Homo sapiens: one gene and its partners. The protein of the gene in region 2 interacts with the protein of the main gene of each other region in a biochemical or structural test. Each region holds a gene or a part of one and is shown on either strand. Other genes may lie near its edges.

Evidence for each region. Proteins that work in one complex are often made in the same cells at the same time.
Region 1: the proteins of TRERF1 (region 2) and ITCH interact in a test that uses a peptide from one of them, tested with the Homo sapiens proteins (one large-scale study listed by BioGRID and IntAct).
Region 3: the proteins of TRERF1 (region 2) and NEDD4 interact in a test that uses a peptide from one of them, tested with the Homo sapiens proteins (2 studies listed by BioGRID and IntAct, with this or other methods).
Region 4: the proteins of TRERF1 (region 2) and YAP1 interact in a test that uses a peptide from one of them, tested with the Homo sapiens proteins (2 studies listed by BioGRID and IntAct, with this or other methods).

What each region holds. Positions count from the first base shown.
Region 1 is NC_000020.11:34,481,773-34,485,272, forward strand, and holds part of ITCH (E3 ubiquitin-protein ligase Itchy homolog), read left to right. Parts: intron 1-3,500. UniProt on the Homo sapiens protein: Acts as an Acts as an E3 ubiquitin-protein ligase which accepts ubiquitin from an E2 ubiquitin-conjugating enzyme in the form of a thioester and then directly transfers the ubiquitin to targeted substrates.
Region 2 is NC_000006.12:42,256,427-42,259,926, forward strand, and holds part of TRERF1 (transcriptional-regulating factor 1), read right to left. Parts: intron 3,298-3,500; coding exon 2,913-3,297; intron 1,776-2,912; coding exon 1,709-1,775; intron 1,336-1,708; exon of another isoform or gene 1,048-1,335; intron 677-1,047; coding exon 537-676; intron 406-536; coding exon 302-405; intron 1-301.
Region 3 is NC_000015.10:55,983,613-55,987,112, reverse strand, and holds part of NEDD4 (E3 ubiquitin-protein ligase NEDD4), read left to right. Parts: intron 1-3,500. UniProt on the Homo sapiens protein: E3 ubiquitin-protein ligase which accepts ubiquitin from an E2 ubiquitin-conjugating enzyme in the form of a thioester and then directly transfers the ubiquitin to targeted substrates. Specifically ubiquitinates 'Lys-63' in target proteins.
Region 4 is NC_000011.10:102,207,947-102,211,446, reverse strand, and holds part of YAP1 (transcriptional coactivator YAP1), read right to left. Parts: intron 1,931-3,500; coding exon 1,883-1,930; intron 1-1,882. UniProt on the Homo sapiens protein: Transcriptional regulator with dual roles as a coactivator and corepressor. Critical downstream regulatory target in the Hippo signaling pathway, crucial for organ size control and tumor suppression by restricting proliferation and promoting apoptosis.

The sequences.
Region 1 (3,500 bases), on a different chromosome or scaffold from region 2:
AAGGCCAAGGCAGGCAGATCACAAGGTCAGGAGATTGAGACCATCCTGGCCAACATGGTGAAACCCCATCTCTACTAAAAATACAAAAATTAGCTGGGTGTGGTGGCATGTGCCTGTAATCCCAGCTACTAGGGAGGCTGAGGCAGGAGAATGGCTTGAACCTGGGAGGCGGGGATTGCAGTGAGCCAGGATAGCACCACTGCACTCCAGCCTGGTAACAGAGCAAGACTCTGTCTCAAAACAAACAAACGAATGAACAAAACACTTCATCATATCTTGTGAGACATATTCACTGTCATGCAAACAGCAGGGGAAAGACCCACCCCCGTGATCCCATGATTCAGTTATCTCACTGATTCTCTCTTACAACACATGGGAATTATGGGAGCTACAAGGTGAGATTTGGGTGAGGACACAGAGCCAAACCATATCATTCTGCCCCTAGCCCCTCCCAAATCTCATGTCTTCACATTTCAAAACCAATCATGCCTTCTCAACAGTCCCCAAAGTCTTAACTTATTTCAGCATTAACTCAAAAGTCCACAGTCCAAAGTCTCATCTGGGACAAGGGAAGTCCCTTCCGCCTATGAGCCTGTAAAATTAAAAGCAACTTAGTTACTTCCTACATACACTCAGGGATACAGGCATTGGGTAAATACAGCCATTCAAGATGGGAGAAATTGGCCAAAACAAAGGAGCTACAGGCCCCATGCAAGTTTGAAATCCAGCAGGGCAGTCAAATCTTCAAGTTCCAAAATGATCTCTTTTGACTCCATGTCTCATATGCAAGTCACCCTGATGTAAGAGGTGGCCTCCCATGGCCTTGGGCAACACTGCCCTTGGGGCTTTGCAGGGTATAGCCCCCCACCGGCTGCTTTCATGGGCTGGCGTTGAGTGTCTATGGCTTTTCCAGTCTCATGCTGCAAGCTGTTGGTGGATCTACCATTCTGGGGTCTAGAGGACGGTTGCCCTCTTCTCACAGCTCCACTAGGCAGTGCCCCAGTAGGGACTCTGTATGGGCCTCCAACTTCACATTTCCCCTCCACACTGACCTAGCAGAGGTTCTCTGTGAGTGCCCTGCCCCTGCAAGCAGACTTTTGCCTGGGCATCTAGGCATTTCCATACGTCTTCTGAAATCTAGAGGGAGGTTCCCAAGCCTCAATTTTTGCCTTCTGTGCACCCTCAGGCTCAACAGCACGTGGAAGCTGCCAACTCCTGGGGCTTCCACCTTCTGAAGCAACAACCCGGGCTGTACCTTGGCCACTTTTAGTCATGCTGGAGCAGCTAGGAAACAGGGCACCAAGTCCCTAGAGTGCACACAGCGTGGGGACCCTGGGCCCGGCCCATGAAACCATTTTTAGCTCCTAGGCCTGCCTACAGGCTTGTGATAGGAGGGGCTTCCATGAAGACCTCTGACGTGCCCTGTAGACATTTTCCACATTGTCTTGGGGATTAACATTCGGGTCCTCATTACTTATGCAAATTTCTGTAGCCAGCTTGAATTTCTCCTCAGAAAATGAGATTTTCTTGTCTATTGCATTGTTGGGCTGCAAATTTTCCAAACTTTTATGCTCTGCTTCCCTTACAAAACTGAATGCCTTTAACAGCACGCAAGTCTCCTCTTGAATGCTTTGCTACGTAGAAATTTATTCCACCAGATACCCTAAATCATCTCTCTCAAGTACAATCGTCTCTCTCAAGTACAAATCCACCAGTCTCTAGCACAGGGGCAAAATGCTGCCAGTCTCTTTGCTAAAACATACAAAGAGTCACCTTTGCTGCATTTCCCAAAAAGTTTCTCATTTCCATCTGAGAACACCTCAGCCTGGACTTTATTGTCCATATTGCTGTCAGCATTTTGGTCAAAGCCATTCAACAAGTCTATAGGAAGTTCCAAACTTTCCCACATTTTCCTGTCTTCTTCTGAGCCCTCCAAACTGTTCCAACGTCTGCCTGTTACCCAGTTCTAAAGTTGCATCCACATTTTCAGTTATCTTCAGCAGCACCCCACTCCTGGTAACAATTTACTGTTTTCACACTGCTGCTAAGACATACTTGAGAGTGGACAATTTACAAAAGAAAGAGGTTTAATGGACTTACAGTTCCACATGGCTGGGGAGGCCTCACAATCATGGTGGAAGGCAAGGAGGAGCAAGGCATGTCTTACATGAATGGCAGCCGGCAAAGAGAGAGCTTGTGCTGGGAAACTCCCATTTTAAAACCATCAGATCTTGTGAGACTTATTCACTATAATGAGAACAACATGAGAAAGGCCCGCCCCCATGATTCAGTTATCTCCCACTGGTTCTCTCCCATAACACATAGGAATTATGGGAGCTACAAGATGTGATTTGGGTGGGGACACAGAGCCAAACTATATCATAAGGTTGGGTAAAATTTATAACTAAAATGATGTTTTATAGTATATCCTTTCTGATTATTTCCATTGGTTCATGCTACTAGTCTCAAGAGCTAATAGTTCATTCATACCTTCTCAATAGCAATTCTTTCCAGCCAGGGTTAAATTTTGCATATTTACTTCTTAAGTTCCAGGTTCTGCATTTCTTGCCTGGTTTTTCCCTCCATAATTGAAAGTATACTATTTAACACAGTGAGCTGTCATTATTTCTTGGACAACAATCTATCCTTTTAAAAGTTTATTTTGAAATCTGCTTTTAAAATGTAGTCAATTCGTTTTTGTCAATTCTCCAGTTTTTTTGTTATGATATGTCTAGATTTTCTTATGACATATATAGCATTCCAGAGAGGTAATGTTTCGAGATTCCAAGAGATGTACTACGTTTCTCAATAGTTTTGTTGCTGGTAAGATAACATTTTAAGATAATGGGCAGCTAAAAAGGTTTTTAGTATCTACTTCAATAATGGCTTGCTTAAAATTTCAGAGTTTGGGGGGTTTTTAGTATTATTTTAAGAAGTATAATTTCCTTAGAATAAAATGCACTGATCTTAAGTGTAGAAGTTGAAATTTGACAAATATATATATCAGCCCAAATGTGAGCATTTTATGGAGAGAAGTTGTGCTAGATCACTCATTTAATTACCAATTCTGTAAACACTGTTCCATATAGCATCATGTCCATGTAAATATGACCCAAATTGTGGAACTTTTTTTTCTATTCTGGACCCCATAAGGGGCCAATGCACACCTCCCTTCTCCCAGCCCCAGAGGTAGGTAACCATTTCTGTTTAGTTCTATTTCTATAACTGTTTCTGATCTTAAACTTCCTAAAATGAAATCATAGAGTATGTACTCTTATATCTAGCTTTTAGTGTCTGATTTTTTCTTTTATTTGGTGTTTGTGAGATTCAGCCATATTGTTTATATCAGTATTTTATTCCTTTTTATTGCTGAGAAATATTCCATGCTGTGTATATCTCAAAATTTGTTTATCCATTCTCTTGGTGATAAATGTTTTGGTTGTTTCTCAGTCTGGGGCTTTTATGAGTAAAGCTGCTATAAACATTCTTGTGATATCTTT
Region 2 (3,500 bases):
GACTCAGTTTTCTGATGTGAAGTGCAAGATGTGGAAAAGAAATTCTAATGTCCTAGGACAGATGTACCCACAGTTCTAACTTTAGGAACAGATGTGGAAACAGAAATCCAATTGGAGATTTTTTTCTACAGACTTTAACATCCTGACCTACCCACCGAGAGAAGGAATAGGGAGGCGTGCTGATTGGTCATCATGCGCCGATTGGTCATTACAAATTGGTTGTATGGTACATGAGACAATATTGAAACTTGGGAAAATACTCTTCAGGAATTTGTAAAGCCTCTTTTTCATGGTTCCTTACCATCACATCACCTTTGGCCTCAAACAGAGAGTGCAAAGCAAATTCAGAATTGGTCCCTCCACCTGGCAATGCACTGGAACAGCACAAATTCAGAAGATTCTCCACTGTTGGGAATAAGGAGAAGCCAATGCATCAGAGAGAGCTGAGTGTAATGGAAAACACACCAATCCCAGAGCCAGTGATCTCAGTGAGAGAATCAAACCTCTCCCACCCAGCTCTTCCCATATGCCAATACCTCTTTGCTGGAGGTCATGGTTTTCTAGTTCTGGCCAGGGCTTCCATACCAGTGTGGCCTTGTGTGTGTCCTGGGCCAGGGCAGAGATATCTTGGAGTTCAGGGATTTCTGCTTGGAATCTCAAGCCAATGTTGATGCGTCTTTAAATGACAAGAAGAAAAACAACAATGTGGTCTTCAATTTGATGGCTCAGGCCAAGGGCAACTGTCAGGAACTTGAAAAAGAAGGAAACTAGTTCTTTCTGCAAGAATGCAGGGGCATTTCCTCACAGTGTGACCCTAAGATTCCACACGTGGCCTTTTCACTGGGATAAGGAACAGCTTTAAGATTAGGGAGAAATATTTTAGGAGCAAGGGGGCAGTCGGCCTGGGGCTTTTACAGCTCCCTGTAACTGGGAGAGGGAGGGTGATTATTTCCAACATAACAGTTTCCCAGAGCATGGCCAATGGTGCCATTTAACAACACAAAAAAGGGGACAAATACAAAGCATTCATTTTTTTATCTCTTTCAGATCACTTTCACAGATATTATCCCATCCGAACCTCACAGAGATCTGTGATGTAAGCAAGGCTGGAATAATTACTCCCATTTGACGAGTCAACTAAACCCTACAAAGGTTAACTGGATCAAGATCAAATTACAAAATGGTGTTGGAACTTAGGTTTTTTGATTCCTGACTCAATCTACTCACCACTCTACCACCTGGCCTCTTTTCTGTGCCTATCCATGAAAATAACCACCTTTGCCTCTCCTAATACCACCCACTGCCTATGCAAAATTAAAGTACTTAACAAGCCCATTTGGAGGACTGGCCAAGAATTGGGGAGGAGGGAAGTGAAGACATTCAGAAGGAGCCTCTTAAAGAATGAGCCACCCGGAGGGAGATGCCTGTGTCACTGGGGATGAGAAAGCACTGCCTGTGGAGCCAGACGCAGGGACGCTAGGCTCTCTGAATACAGGGCTTCATGCTTTGACCATGTATTTAGTCTTTGGCAAAGGCCTTGAAATACTGGCAACCATTGTGCAGGGAAACAACAGTACTCAAGAAATAACCACGATCCTACAATTTCTACAACTGCTCTCTCAGTGTAATCCTCTGACTACAAAAGTATTAACTATACTTCTCAAGAAGCTGAGGCTTCTGTTCTAAAGAGTAATTGACTTTTCCTTACGGTTCAACATCTACAGTCTGCTCTCCAGGCCCTGGGGTGACCGTCACGTTGCTGCCATCGATGCTGTCTAAAACACAAAAATCAGAGGTCACTAGTCAACAGGGAAGGAATGTTGAAAAAGACTAAAGCAAATGAGCAGTTACCTAACCAGCCATAATAGAGCTTCTCTCCTACCCAGCTCCTGCCAGAGTTATCCTTGACAGTTTCCAGGGAGCTGGGTGGAGTATGGTGCAAAATAACTTAGGGTTACCCATTTCTCACACAGGGTGAGGAGAAGCCAGCTGTCCCACAATGGTCTGCTAAGCGGTATGATTTCTATGCAATTATTCTTGCTCCAGAAAGAGATCCTAGCCTCTCTATGCTTGATTTTTATAAAGCATGCTAAAATGTCAAGGCTTGATCTTGCATGTAATACCTAATCTTATTTGTACATCTACTGAGTACATTTTCTTTTTTTTGAGACGGAGTCTCGCTCCTTCGCCCAGGCGGGAGTGCTGTGGCGCGATGTCGGCTCACTGCAGCCTCCGCTTCCCGGGTTCAAGAGATTCTCCTGCCTCAGTCTCCTGAGTAGCTGGAACTACAGGTGCCTGCTACCACATCCCGTTATTTTTTTTTTTGAGACGGAGTTTCACTCTCATCCCCCAGGCTAGAGTGCAGTGGCATGATCTTGGCTCACTGCAACCTCTGCCTCCCAGGTTTAAGCGATTCTCCTGCCTCAGCTTCCCAAGTAGCTGGGATTACAGGTGCGTGCCACCATGCCCGGCTAATTTTTGTATTTTTAGTAGAGACGGGGTTTCACCATGTTGGCCAGGCTGGTGTCCAACTCCCGGCCTCAAGTGATCCACCCGCCTCGACCTCCGAAAACGCTGGGATTACAGGTGTGAGCCACCGCGCCCGGTCTCATTTTTTCTCTCTTGCACGATCATTGCTGGCAGCCTTAAAAAGTGGGTGAACATTTCAACTGTTTCCTTATCCCAGAGACTGTAGTGATCACTTTATGCATCTGTCTCCCAATTAGACTGCGATTCCCTTGAGGATAAGGGCTATGTATTCCAAGTCTTTCTTAACACCCAGCAGCGCGTGCTACATACAGCCAATACTCCGCAAAAGTCTGTGGGATAAATGAGAAAGCTAAAGAAAACGAGATGTCCCAGGACTTTACCCAGCACCCAGAGCCCAGGAGGACGCTAAAGGGGTGACTCACTGGAGCGACACAGCAGCACCCGTGGTGTGGGCGTCAGGGGCGTCAGGGGCAGCTGCGGGTGGGCGCCAGGGCCGTGGCCGGAGATGAGGACATTGCTGAAGAGCCCCGAGCCCTGGCGCACCGGGCTCAGCATGGGTGGGGGCGTGTAAGGGGGCAGCTCGTGGGTGGGGTCCAGGAGCAGGTGGTCCCCGAGGACGCGCGGGGAGCGCAGCTGGCTCTGGTACAGGGTGGCGCCCGAGTAGGAGGCAGCGGGGTTCGGGTTGTAGGAGGGCGGCGGCGGGATGAAGAGAGGTTCCGGCCGGTGCCGGAACTTTTTCTTCTCCTGCACGGTCTTGAGGGGCTCCTCGGCTTTGGGCACACTCGGCTGATGCTTCCTGGGGATTTCCTAAAACCGGAACAACGATCTGATTCGAATACTTCAGCTTCCCCCGCAGGCCATTTCCACAGGTTCAGGGAAGGGGGCCTTCTACTGTCTAAGCAGAGAGCCCTTCTGCTTGACCCCCCCACCCCCAACGCCCCCACATTCTGACCACATCCATTTTAGGCAAAGCGAGTTCTGGTTGCTAGACTAGGGAGAAAACTAAGGTT
Region 3 (3,500 bases), on a different chromosome or scaffold from region 2:
AGAAATAGGAACACTTTTACACTGTTGGTGGGACTGTAAACTAGTTCAACCATTGTGGAAGTCAGTGTGGCGATTCCTCAGGGATCTAGAACTAGAAATACCATTTGACCCAGCCATCCCATTACTGGGTATATACCCAAAGGACTATAAATCATGCTGCTATAAAGACACATGCACAGTTTTTCTTATCCTAGACAGTTTTAAGAAGGACAGGCCTTGGCCGGGCGCGGTGGCTCACGCCTGTAATCCCAGCACTTTGGGAGGCCGAGACGGGTGGATCACGAGGTCGGGAGATTGAGACTATCCTGGCTAACATGGTGAAACCCCATCTCCACTAAAAATACAAAAAAAAAAAATTAGCCGGGTGTGGTGGTGGGTGCCTGTAGTCCCAGCTACTCGGGAGGCTGAGGCCGGAGAATGGCGTGAACCTGGGAGGCAGAGCTTGCAATGAGTCAAGATCATGCCACTGCACTCCAGCCTCGGCGACGGAGCGAGACTCCGTCTCACAAAAAAAAAAAAAAAAAAAAAAAAAGCAAGGACAGGCCTTACATCCTACGATGTTTCTCATTTTGGGTCTGTTTGGGTCTGTTTAGTGTTTCTTGATGACCATGTTCAGGTCACGCTCTCTTGGCAGGAATCATAGAAATGATGCTGTGTTCTTCGCATGCATCACACCAGGGGACACATGATGCTGACTTGTCCCAACACTGTCAGTGACCTTAATCACTTGGTCACCTTGGTGTCTGCCAGGTTTCTTCTCTGTAATGTCACCTTTTTTCTCTTTATAATTGATAGTATTTTCAGGGGACATATCGTAAGATTATGCCAATATCCTATTTCTCGTCAAGTCTTCATCCTCAGTTTTAGCATCCATTGATGAATTCTATCTGAACCAAACACCACTATTTTGTTTTATTTCCATCTCTGTTAGTTGGCATTCTATGTAAGAAGAGCTTTCCTTTTCCTGTCATTTATTTATATCAGCATAGACTTGTAAAATCCCACTTTATTCAGCAGGTTGTAATCAGTTACTGTCATTAAATATTTTATTGCTCATACTGTCCCAGTTTGTCCAGTGGGAGCCCTTTCAAGGAGGTTCCTAGGTCTTCGTAACAAGTCCCCATCATTCTTTGAACACTTTCTGGCAGAAGTTGTTCCAGGCTTCTCTTGTATTTTGCTTGGCTCAGCTATCTACAATCAGCCATTTTCCCTAGAAGCACTGGTCCTATTTAGTATAAAATGGTTTTTACATGCTACAATTTGGGTACTTGGTGTGCTCATTGTTACTGGGATATACTCTTGGACCATCTCTGAACAGTTAAGCGTGTGTGTGTGTGTGTGTGTGTGTGTGTATGTGTACTCTACACACATATATAAGTATACACAAAGATCTATAGCTATTTCTATATCAATCTGTAAATACATAAATTTAAAAATCATGAATTCATACTGATTTTTTCCAATTCAAACCTAATACCTGAGTTCCTTTATAGCCATAAGTACCTTTTCTAACAGTGAAAAAATTTGACTTTTATTATCCTTAATATATTTGTTCATTGACTTATGTGTTCAGTGTAACTAACTTCCTGACCACGCAGACATCTCCTCTGCCACTTCAGCTCTTCACATCCTTGGATGCCAGTGGGAATATTGCTATTCTCTATGCAGCATCCCTGTGCAACGCCGTCCTCCCCTCCTCAGTACCCTTGCCAGTGGGCACCCTTCTGATGCATCTCTGTATGGTATCTCCCTCCTCCCCTCAGTGCCCCGTGCTGGCGAGCATGCCAACCATGCACCTCTGTGAAATTCACCCTCACTCCACAGACATTTTCTGTAGTGGCCTGTGATTGACTGCTCTGCGCCAGGAACAGAAAAGGAGAAGGAACTATAATTTCTTTTATAGGTAATTAGGAATTCATATATCACATAGGAGTAGAATCTTTGAGCTGGAAGAGACCTTGTAAATAAATCATTTAGGGTGAGCAGGGGTATAGAAAATGGGATTCTTTTGTGTTGGAATTCTGGCCCTGTCACTTACTTGGTGAATCTTGCATAATTAAACATCAGTCAGAGCAGGATATTTAAGTCTGCTGATTCTCCCATCCCCTTGCTGTCTCAGAAATATTCTATAGCATTTGGAGACATGCAGGAACCAGTTGAACACAATTGCTTCTCAATCTATCATGGTTATCTACTCCAGAGCTGAATCTTTAAGTCAGATAGCTGATTTGAATTGCTGAACCCATTGTTCTGCTGAATTCTGTGGCAATTGATGTTACTTCTTCTTTAGGACTTCTATTTCTTCTGGCCTCCTTGCCAATAGTATCAAAGTTTAAGAGGATAAATGAATGGGGAGGGGATAGGAGAAGTCTGGAGATAAATGCAGGGAGAAAGGCACAGCACAAACAAAAAGCATTTTGATAAGGCTTTTCTGAAAGTTGAGTAAATATGTCTGTAGCCCATTATTATAACTCATGGCTGGACTCAAATGTCTGGCTTCAACTGATGCGAGACATGTTGGGGCAATGAAGAGAGTAATATGAACAAACAATCATGGCCGTCAATAAAGATGCTTTAGTGAAAGTATTCTCCTTTGGGAAAAAGAGTCAACCTAAATAAATAGCAACTGCCTTTAACTGAATACCCACTCTGTGCCAGGCACCAGGTTAGATTTTTTCATACTTTAGCTGTAATCATCACAACATTATTGCAGAAGTAGGAAGTATTACCCCCATTTTAGAGATAAGGAATATGAGATTCTGATTTGTTCAAGAACCTTCTCCCAGTAGGGAGAAGTGTTATATTCATAACAAACACTTGGTCCTTCCACTTTCCTGCTACTAATACGCAAATAAAATAATTTAACAGAAGAGACTTTTTCTCAGGAATATGATGAATGTGAATGGAATGTGTGCAAAATTAACTTGTAATTGTTATGCTCTCATTTCCACATCTTCTGTCTTTTCTTGATAAAGCTTTTAGGTGGACCTCTGAAGTACTTGATTTCTGTATTTGCTTAACAAATATTTGATGAACACTATGTATCAGGCACGTGGGTCAGGGCATGAGGTATAATGATATAGAATATACTTTACCGATTTTATAGCCAAGAGGGAGAGAGAAACATTAAATAAATTATCACACATCAATATTTTATAAGTGTTATTAAGGAAAACAGTGTAAGATGAAAGTATTTATAACAGGCTGGGCGCAGTGGCTCACACCTGTAATCCCAGCACTTTCGGAGGCTGAGATGGGTGGATCACTTGAGGTCAGGAGTTCGAGACCAGCCTGGCCAACATGGTGAAACCCTGTCTCTACCAAAAATACAAAAATTAGCCAGGCATGGTAGCATATACCTGTAGTCTCAGGTACTTGAGAGGCTGAGGCAGGAAAATTGTTTGAATCGGGAGGTGGGGGTTGCAGTGAACCGAGACTGCGCCACTGCACTCCAGTCTGGGCAACAGAAGAACACTCTGTCTCAAAAAAAAAAAAAAAAG
Region 4 (3,500 bases), on a different chromosome or scaffold from region 2:
AAGATTTTTAAAAACCTCTTTCAAGTTTTTTGCTCTGGTCTGGGCAAATCTGAGTAATTACCTCTAATCTTCGTATCTTAGAAGCTTTACTACTAATAAGCCTCACCTTTTCTAAAACTTTACTATTTTAAAAAATCTAAGAATTCCTGATAATTTTAATAACAGTAAAGATTTACTTTTCTATTCAAGTATGAAACAAAGATCAAGAAGAATTTGACTTATTTATCAGATTCAGGGTATAAGACCTTGGGAAAAAAGGAAACAATTTCAACATTTTTTTGGCATGGAGGACTTTTTACCTGAATCCAAATCTCCTTTGAGTTAATTTCTGCTCCTATATTAGTTTCTATTTCATTTATCATGAATAAAATTCTTCTTTCAGAAACACTTCAGGCCAGACGTGGTGGCTCACGCCTGTAATCCCAGCAATTTGGGAGGCTGAGGTGGGCGGATCACGAGGTCAGGAGATCGAGACCATCCTGGCTAACACTGTGAAACCCCGTCTCTACTAAAAAATTCAAAAAGAATTAGCTGGGCATGGTGGCGGGCGCCTGTAGTCCCAGCTACTTGGGAGGCTGAGGCAGGAGAATGGTGTGAACCCGGAAGGCGGAGCTTGCAGTGAGCCGAGATCACACCACTGCACTCCAGCCTCGGCAACAGAGCGAAACTCCATCTCAAAAACAAAAACAAAAAACAAAAACAAAAAGACAAAACAAAACAAACACTTCAGAGAAATGGCAAAGAAAAAAATGGCTTCACGTTATAAAGACCCAATGCTATCCTGCACTTCACAGTCAAATGGTATATTAGTGCCCCCTCATCATAAGAATGTCTATGCTCAACTTTGGTGAAGATGGCTTATTATTGAGTTATCCCTTGCTTGGTCTTTTGATTAATGGTGGCATTTATGAGATAGATAAAGAAGAATAGAGATTTTCCCTCTCACAAAATTAACTGGTTTCTATGAAGACTGTATCTGACTTTTATCATCATGGTGCTCCAACGGACAACTTAACAGTATCCAAAATGAGTAGAATTTTGCCAACTCCTACTTCTACAGCAGATTCTAAAACAATGTACTTATTTAGCATAGTGCAGAGTAAGTTACATAGAAGGTGAGGCATTATATGGTTGCTTCTGCCCCAAGAGAAGTAGAATGATCCTCTGGCTCCGAATTTCTTCTAATCTTGTGGACCTCAAACACCTAAAATCTTTTTGGTTTTAAGAACGAGATTCTTCCCACGAGTCAGACAAGTGCCTGTGTTAGAAGAAAAATTGGCCACAATCTTTCCTTCTAAATAAGATGCCTTCACAACCAGGGCTCCCTGGGGTTCATCAGAGAATGCTGATAAAAGCCAACAAGAAAACCTGAAACACTATCCAGGCAGATACTCTCCTGATAATTTTGATATTTTTCCTTTGGAATGTCCACTAGAAAGAATTTTTCTCTTCCTCATAGTATCATGACTCTAAAATTTCCTAAAGTAGCCTATCCAAGTAAATACTGCTTTTGTTACTGTTCAATTTATTAATTCCTTTAAATCATTACACATACTATTTTAAGCTATTCAAATAAAAATTAGGCATACCTAGCTGATAGGATGTACAACTGAGACACAATACATTTAAATATAGAATAAAAAAGACCTCCATGGAATCAAAATAAACAGAAACTCCCTAGGAGGAGCAGGGAGGGAGCAGACTGTGTAGACTTTCTTGGAAGGGCAATGTTAACCTGAGTATCTTGGTAGAAAGATGGCTCAAAGTTATTCTCTGGGCTAATGTCCAATAAGGACAGGACCCTGGAATGTAAGTTTCTCTTTCCTAATTTAATATCTTTTTTTTTTTTTTTCCAGTGCTAAAACATCAGATAAGAGCCTACCTGACATTTTGGAGAATTTGCTGTGCTGGGATTGATATTCCGCATTGCCTAAGAGTAAAAAATAAGACGGATAAAAATTACTTTAAGCCACATGGTCTGGCTGTGTAGGCTGACTTACAAATTGTATCCAGACATATCACCATAGCACAGAATTCCCAAGCTACCCAAGAAGAAGCAGACTGACGAAGACAGGAGCCAATGGAGTCACCACATAACAAAACTGGAACCTCAGAAGTTTTTAACAGCATTGAGGATAGGACAGCAAGACTTTAGGAGTCAGAACTAAAAAATAAAATTTGATATTGGTCACGTAGGTTCTTTGTTTCTGAGTATTAGATAAAGCAGATACAATATATTTGATGTTTCAGTGCTAAGATAAACTGTCAAGGGAAGAAGTTCACAGGAAGCCAAAAGACTTAAGATATACTGAATTTATTGTGATTACTTTAAAAAAATCTAAAAATAGTCTATTAGTATGAGAATAGAGCAGGTCTGTCAACTTCAACATAAGAAAAGACGACACAGTAGGCAGTAAAGATGAAACAAAGAAGTTACCTTTAAAGGAAGTGAAGCTATTCTGTCCAGGACCCATCACCCAGAGTAAGTTTGAGAATAAAGATTTAGGAAAATCTTTGGAAGGAAGAGTTTTACAAATAGCAGCATTTGCCCACCAAAAAACCCCAGGATGATCTATGGCATAAAACAAAATGGCGAATGGCCCCATTTCTAGACTTTACAAATTATCTTAAAAACAGTATGGTTTTGACATTAGTAATTAAAGAACTTTTTTTTTAGTTTCTTGATTTTGACAGTTTTTATTCATAGTGAAATTGAGACCTGTATTTACTTAGAACAACTACTACTCGGCAACAACAAAATGAAAAACAATGAAAATAGGTTACATAAAACATATTTTAAAACTGCTCTTTTTTTTTCTATTAGCCATGTAATTATATTTTTGATGGTTCTAAGGTGTTCTAACAATAGTAGACGAAAAATATTCTTCCTTTATGGTAATTTGTTAGAAAGTCAGAGGTACAATAATGCTTCCTTTCTCCATCCTTTTTTATGTCAGATAAAGAAACATTTCTTTCAAGATCACTTTATAGGGGCCAAAAGGAAAACTTCCCCTCTACCCTCTAAAGGTTCGCTGAAAATGAACTGATAATAGACAAATTAACAGGAGAAAATGGCAAACAAATTTATTTAAGGTGCATAAGCATGGGGGAAATTGCAAGACAATTATTACCCAATAACCAAGTGAGTTCCAGATACTATATAATACCCTTCTTCACAGGGGAAGGGGACATGAGGGAAATGACGCCATTTTGAAGGGCAGTAAATGATTTTTAGGAAGAATGAATGGGCCCAGTACACAGACAATGGTTAGTAAATAATTCTCTTTGGAAACTGAATGGGATCTGAGAACAGACAATAGTCTGGGCAAAGTTCCTCTGAGCTCTCTAGGTGTGATATTTAATTTTTAGTCTTTTCCTCTGTCATACAAGTTTCAGGCTTCTCTGGTTAATGAAATTTTGAGGAGGGGATCAAAGGCAATTGTATTCCTTTTGGTGGGTCTGGTTTCTAGGCAGATAAAGGAACTTCAAGGAACAGCCTC